Homo sapiens: one gene and its partner. The protein of the gene in region 1 interacts with the protein of each later gene in a biochemical or structural test. Each region holds a gene or a part of one and is shown on either strand. Other genes may lie near its edges. The genes, in order: TAOK3 and ATF7.

Region 1 (3,822 bases):
CTCAGTGCTCTTGTACTTGTTGCTTTCTGACTCATCCCCATCTCTTACCCCAGCTGGCTAGCTTCTATTTGTTTTTGAAATTTCTGCTTAAATGTCACCTCATCAGGTAGGCTTTTCTTACTCCCTGCTAGAGTAAGTCCTCCTTTTACCCGAGGCAAGTTTCTTTCTTTCTTCTTCTTCTTTTTTTTTTTTTTTTTTTTTGAGTCTCACTCTGTTGCCCAGGCTGGAGTGCAATGGCGCGATCTCGGCTCACTACAACCTCTGCCTCCTGGGTTCAAGCAATTCTCCTGCCTCAGCCTCTCGAGTAGCTGGGATTACAGGCATATGTCACCAGGCCCGGCTATTTTTTGTATTTTTAGTAAAGACGGGGTTTCGCCATGTTGGCCAGGCTGGTCTCAAACTCCTGACCTCAAGTGATCCACCCGCCTAGGCCTCCCAAAGGGCTGGGATTACAGATGTGAGCCACCACGCCCAGCCAAGAAACATACTTTTGAAAGAGCATACTTCTAAAAGGGCACAACCAACAGGTACACTCAGGAAGACTTGAAGGTCTACAGTATTAAGATTATTGGTTTAGAGAAGGACTTATCAAATTCTTCAACTTATTTATTGATGATGATGGACATCAGAGTAATGAGAGAGGGAGATGAAGAAATAGGCACAGATGTAGCCTGTGTAGTCCTTTGTTACTTTTTGACTGTAAGAAAACTGTCACATGCCAGGTTTAGTACCACACTGCAGTTGCAAAAAGGTAACTGAAACATCTGGAAGCTAAGTGACTTGAACTGGATTCGCTATGATTGACAAAGCTCACCTCTGTGGAGGGTACCAAGAAACCTACTTTCTTATGCACGACGGAGGAGCTGGAATTGATTGTGCTTTCGTCATCGTGCATCATGACAAGTTCGGAACTGCTCTCGTCCATGACTTCCTGCATGCTGTTCACACTGCTGCTCTGGCTGCCTGTGCTCACGGACATGCTTGGAATGGAATGGTTGCTGCCCAGGCTGTCCATTTCCCTGTTCAGGCTGGTTCCATGTTCACTGTCCTGTAAAAATGGGGCACTGAGGTTAGAAAAAAAGACTGAAGATAAAGAGTCAATCCATTGACAAAAGTGTCAAGCACACTCAATTTTGCAGTGTCAAGTTGCTTTTCTGCCAATCTGCAAAGACAAACTTTTTATGTACTGGCTCCACTACTCCTCCACCATTTTCATACATCTCATATTTGCTTCCTATGCCTTCCCCAGGGGCCATTCTGGACGTGGGTCATAAGGCTCCAAATGCTGCCATCCCAGGGCTTTCCCCTGTCATACACACTATCATATTATCGTGTTGCTATTCAGTAAGCAAAATCAAGCCAGGTTTGTAAGGGACCTTCTGGAACATCAAGGAGCTAGAGGAAGACTGCTGGCCACTAAACAGGTGAGCTCTAGGATATCTTCAAATACAGCAGTGGTCACTTGAAAAAGTAGAGTGGAAAGAGTTTTCAGATATTTGACAAGCAATATGCTCCCTCTGCAAGTCATTATTGAGTAACTTCATATCTAAGCAGAAATATTAATTCTACTTTCCTGGACAGGTAATTAAAGTCTGCCTCCCTCAAGCGATTCTATCATGCTTATCTCTGTAATCTTATTATATATATCTGTTAAATAATACTGGTATTCATCATTACTGGCCCAAAGACTACTATTTGAAAAGTGGTAAAATAATCAGAACATATAATTTATCCATCACAGTGGGATATCTTTTGATATAAGATTGAATAATAAAATTAAATCCATTTAGCTACAAATAAACCTTGTTCTCAAAAAACCATATGGTACACATATAACTTTAATAAACTGTTACTTAGCCATGGCAATATAAAAAATTACTGGGTAATATAAAATGGAAGATAATACATTATTTTTAACAGACTTATTTTCCCAATTAAAGGGGATCATTTCTATATATGCAATCAAGAAATTTTATAGTTCAATGCAACTTTCCGAGCTTCATTTTTAAAATTATTGATAAAATACTTTTATGTTTATTTTATTTTCTGTTAAAAAGCTAAAATACTCCTGTTCTTGTTATGTCTACGTTCTGAAATCCTGCCTCTTTAACTATATCCCTTTCTTCTATCTTCGGTGCCTCTGACTCTGCCCTGGCTCCATCTCTACTGCATTTAAAGATGAAGAAGCCTGCCTTATATTTATGGATCTCTCTACATGCTGCCCACTCTTACTTTTCCTTCTTAACCCAATTTCTGAATCTTAACATAATTATTTTTTCCTGTCTCCCTCTTATCAACTCCCATGAATTATACAACTCCAGTAATCTACTATTCATTCTACCTAGTCCTGTAAAACTGCTTTTACTAAGGTCATCAAGGATTCTCTAACTGAAAACTTCTATCTGTATACTGGCAAGAGTTTATAATGCCAGGACCTTAAACTCAAAAGGCACGAAACTGAAATCATCCTAAATCTACTCTTTCTCCCTGGTTCTTTTTCTCTGTTCTTGGTATTGACATACTCCTAGCCACCCAGGCTCCAATGCTCAGAGTCACCTTAAACTCCTCCTTATCTGTCACTGTCAATGAGAAGCCATGGATTATGAAATCTACCTCTACGATGTTTCTCTAAAGTGCTCCCTTTTCCCCATTTGCATCGACACTGACCTTATTACCTCTTGCATGGACTATTAGCCAGGATGTTGCCCATTCAAATCCATGTTACACTCTGTTGCTAGGATAATCTTCCTAAAGCACAACACCTTTCTGAGTCTAGAACACCCTATGCCCATTTGTCAGAAACTACCCACATCATGTCCTCCAGGAAACCTTCACTAATCCCACCAGCAGACTTATTTTCTCCCCATGATGGACCCCTGCAATGGGGTTACACCTCTGTAGCACTTTTCATATTTTGCCTTATATAAGTGTTATTTTATGAATGTCTCTTGTACAACCCTTCATGTTTCTTAAGGCGGACAGCATCAATTAATTTTTATCTTCAAAAGTTTTTCATAGTGCCCAGTCTAGAACTTTTTCACATAGTGGGCATTCTATAAGTGCCTGCTAAAATAAATTGAACCTACTTCCTCATCCTCCTGTGACTCATTCAAGGGTCCATTCCGTGTCTCTTGGAAAAGTATTTTTTTCATTTTTCGGTACTGTAGGTTATCTAGCTCACGAACTGCATCTTTTGTCCTCTGTATGAGGTCAATGAGGACACGTAGTGGCCGGTCTCGTCGAACAAAGTCATGCTGATTGAGGGAGGAGGAAAAAATAAACTGATAATGAAGAAATGTCCTTAGGTGCAAGGTACAGATATAAAAGGAAATAGAGAATCATAAAATAGTTCTATGGATATTACAGAAATAACAAAATATGATTTTCATGTCATGTGTCCTTCCATATTTTGTAAATCTCATAAAGAGATAGCTATGCTTTTTTCTTCTTCCTTAAGCCCCATTTTGCGGATGTGAGAATTCTTTTTAAAAATTGTACATATTTAAAGTATATGGCAACATGTTTTGATACACATATATATAGTGAAATGATTTCTACAGTTAAGCAAATTAACATATCTATTATCTCATATAGTTACTTCTTGGTGGCAAAGTACCGAAAATCTTTAGTCTTAGCAAATTTCCCAGATATAATACAATATTATCAACTATAGTCCTCATGCTGTACACTGGATCTCTACACTTATTTATCCCACATAACTAAAACTTTGTACCATTTGACTTTCATCTTTCCATTCCCCATCCCTTTCAACCACCTTTCATTTTGTGTTTTATTCTTTGTTTACTTTCCACATGTAAGTGA
Region 2 (3,822 bases), about 65 Mb from region 1:
TCATGGCTCATACTGCAGCTTCAGTCTCCCAGGCTCAAGCCATCCTCCTACCTCAGCCTCCTGAGTAGCTGAGACTAAAGGCTCATGCCACCATGCCTGGCTAATTTTGTTTATTTTTTGTAGAGGTCTCATCATGTTTCCCAGGCTGGTCTCGAACTGCTGGGCTCAAACAGTCCTCCTGCCTTAGCCTCCCAAAGTGCTGAGATTACACGCATGAGCTACTGTGCCTGGCCAGATTTTTTGACATTAGATGAAATTCTGTTTCGGAAACTTTTTTTTTTTTCTGAGGCAGGGTCTCCCTCTGTCTCCCAGGCTGGAGTGCAATGGCGCCATCTTGGCTCACTGCAGTCTCTGCCTCCTGGGCTCAAGTGATTATCCTGCCTCCGCCTCCTGAGTAGCTAGGACTACAGATGTGCGCCACCGTGCCCATCTAATTTTTGTATTTTTTGTAGAGACAGAGTTTCCCATGTTGCCTAGGCTGGTCTTGAATTCCTAAGTTCAGGTGATCTGCCTGCTTTGGCCTCCCAAAGTGCTGGAATTACAGGCTGGGCCCCCATGCCCAGCTTGTTTTGGAAACTCTTCTTTTTTTTTTCTTTTTTTTTTTTTTTTTGACACGGAGTCTCGCTCTGTCTCCCAGGATGCAGTGCAGTGGTGTAATCTCAGCTCACTGCAACTTCTGCCTCCTGGGTTCAAGGAGTTCTCCCCCTCAGCCTCCCAAGTAGCTGGGACTGCAGGCACATGCCACCACGCCTGGCTAATTTTTGTATTTTTAGTAGAGACGTGGTTTCACCATGTTGCAGGCTGGTCTCAAACTCCTGGCCTCAGTTGATGCGCCCACCTGGGCCTCCCAAAGTGCTGGGCTTACAGTGTGAGCCACCTGCCCTTGGAAACTCTTTTAGGAAAAAAACTTTATTCCCTGGACATTTCAACTTAGAAATGAAAGAATTAAACTACTCTCTGAAAACAATTTTATGTAGTTTCCCTGTAATGTTGACATCTCCAATTTAGACCTAACTTTTCATTTTCTTCTTTTTTTTTTTTTTTGGAGACAGAGTCTTGCTATGTCAGCCAGGCTGGAGTGCAGTGGTGCAGTCTTGGCTCACTGCAACCTCTGCCTCCCAGGTTCAAGCAATTCTCATGCCTCAGCCTCCCAAGTAGCTGGGACTACAGGTGCCCACCACTGCGCCCGGCTAACTTTTTGTGTTTTAGTAGAGATGGGGTTTCACCATGTTGCTCAGGGTGGTCTCGAACGCCTGAGCTCAGGCAATCCACCTACCTCAGCGTCCCAAAGTGCTGGGATTACAGGCAAGAACCATCGCGTCCGACCCTAACTTTTCATTTTCTGTTTGGAATAAAAACCTATACCAACTATAAACACACACACACACACACAATTGCCATTTATAATTGTAGTTTATTGGCAAGGATGGTCTAAGTTTGCCAGGTCTAAGTGTTGTAGGTGAAGGGTGCTACAAATGAGATACAACTTCAGAAGACATCTCTAGGGACTAAAGACTTTACATTGGCAGGCAGCAACTTTTCCTGCTTGTTAATTTTAGACCTGACAGTTGAATTTATGTTTGAGCAATTTTAGCTGATAAATGCATTTTTTAAGTACCTTCCTCTTTTGGCATTTTAATTTTTACTTTCGTTTTTAAAAAATTGCAAATCGTGAATGAATGTGCATATTAAATTAGCATGCTACTAGGCAGGGAAACAATGCATTTTCTTTTGATACCTTCTCATCCATCTGATAGCATTAGTTATGAATTCTCCTGGAAAGCAGAAGGATGGACTCGATAACCCCTCAAGGTTCTTTTCAGGCCAGAACTTTCATAAATAGAAGTTAAGATCAAGGAACTTACTCTTGAAGAATCAGGAAGAAAAATAGACTGTAAAGAAAATAAAATTGAAATGTTTCTGTCGACCCAGTGGGAATGGATAAACACAAGTAAGGAACATAAATGACGAGAAATAATAACTCCTTTGAGCTAAAAACAAAACAAAAATCAACAACAACAAATATTTTGCATTGGAGTCATTTTATATCTTAAAAATATTTTATCATGACATTTTCTCTTCGACATTTCCCTTGTGGACACTTTGTGTTGAAAGAATGTTGGGTTTTGTTCCTGTTAAATCATAGTATTTTGTTTCCTTCCTTTCTCTTGTTTGTCCTTTTGTTTAAAAACTTTTTTTTTTTTTTTGGTCTTCTGTATAATGGACTGACTGCCTGTTTACAATGAGGCAAGATTCAATTCAATTTTGAAAGTATTTGCTATATCACTTCCTCGGAAATGAAGGATGAGTGTTACAATTCAGGAAAGGTTGTATGAAAAGATAAACTTGTATAAAAAGATAAGCTTTTAAAATTTTGTAGGCAAACATTTAACGAAGGTTCCCAACCAAAGCAAAGGTGAGTTAGTATAGTAGTCTTTTTTTTATTATTATTTAAAAAAATTTTTTTTGAGACATAGTCTTGCTCTGTCACCCAGGCTGGAGTGCAGTGGCACAATCTTGGCTCACTGCAGCCTCCGGCTTCTGATTACAAGCAATTCTTCTGCCTCAGCCTCCCGAGTAGCTGGGATTACAGTTGCCTGCCACTATGCTTGGCTAATTTTTGTATTTTTAGTAGAGACGGGGTTTCAACCATGTTGGCCAGGCTGCTCTCGCACCCGTGACCTCAAATGATCCACCCACCTTGACCTCCCCAAGTGCTGGGATTACAGGTGTGAGCCACTGTGCCTGGCCTAGTATAGTAGTTTTAAGAAGGACATAATACATAAGCATTGGTTGGGCACAGTAGTTCACACCTATAATCCTAGCACTTTGGGAGGCTTGGGCCCAGGAGTTCGAGACCAGCCTGGGCAACATGACAAAACCCTGTCTCTATAAAAAATACAAAAATTAGCTGAGTGTGGTGACATGCGTTTGTAGCGCCAGCTACTTGGGAGGCTGAAGCGGGAGGATTGCTTCAGCTCAGGAAGCAGAGTTTGCAGCCAGCCCAGGTTGCAGCACTGCACTCCAGCCTGGGCAACAAAGTGATACCCTGTCTCAAAGAAAGAAATAATACATAAGTTTACAGTAAAACTCATTACAAACCCTTGACTTCAGGTTGTTAGCTTTTTCTCACCTTTTTTTTTTTTTTTTTGGAGACAGAGTCGTTCTCTGTTGCCTAGGCTGGAGTACAGTGGCATGGTCTCGGCTCACTGCAATCTCCGCCTCCCAGGTTCAAGCAGTTCTCCTGCCTCAGCCTCCTGAGTAGCTGGGATTACAGGCACACGCTGCTACACCTGGCTAATTTTTTAGGTATCTTAGTAGAGATGGGGTTTCACTGTGTTGCCCAGGCTGGTCTCGAACTCCTGAGCTCAGGCAATCCACCCGCCTCAGCCTTCCAAAGTGCTGGGATTACAGGAATGAGCCACCGCACCCGGCCACGCCTTTTCTCATCTTTTGGCAATTTTAATCCTCAGTGTTCCCATACATTTGAAACCAGAATGTGCATAAAGTTTCTTTTTTTCTTTTCAATATTGTATCTCTTCTTAATAAATATCATGAAAGTCTATGAAAGTGTAGGTTGGGTGAGTTGGCCCACACATGTAATCCCAACACTTTGGGAGGCTGAGGTGGGCAGATTGCTTGAGCTTGGAGTTCGAGACCAGCCTGAGCAACACAGGGAGACCCCATCTCTACAAAAAATTTTAAAATTAGCTGGGCTTGGTGGTGCACGCCTTTAGTCCTAGCTACTTGGGAGGCCAACGCGGGAGGATTACTTGAGCCTGGGAGGCGGGGGTTTCAGTGAGCTGACATCACGCCACTGCA

The links.
Region 2: the proteins of TAOK3 (region 1) and ATF7 form a complex in vitro, tested with the Homo sapiens proteins (one large-scale study listed by BioGRID).

What each region holds. Positions count from the first base shown.
Region 1 is NC_000012.12:118,198,210-118,202,031, forward strand, and holds part of TAOK3 (serine/threonine-protein kinase TAO3), read right to left. Parts: intron 3,255-3,822; coding exon 3,087-3,254; intron 1,049-3,086; coding exon 842-1,048; coding exon of another isoform or gene 815-841; intron 1-814. UniProt on the Homo sapiens protein: Serine/threonine-protein kinase that acts as a regulator of the p38/MAPK14 stress-activated MAPK cascade and of the MAPK8/JNK cascade.
Region 2 is NC_000012.12:53,616,275-53,620,096, reverse strand, and holds part of ATF7 (cyclic AMP-dependent transcription factor ATF-7), read left to right. Parts: intron 1-3,822. UniProt on the Homo sapiens protein: Stress-responsive chromatin regulator that plays a role in various biological processes including innate immunological memory, adipocyte differentiation or telomerase regulation.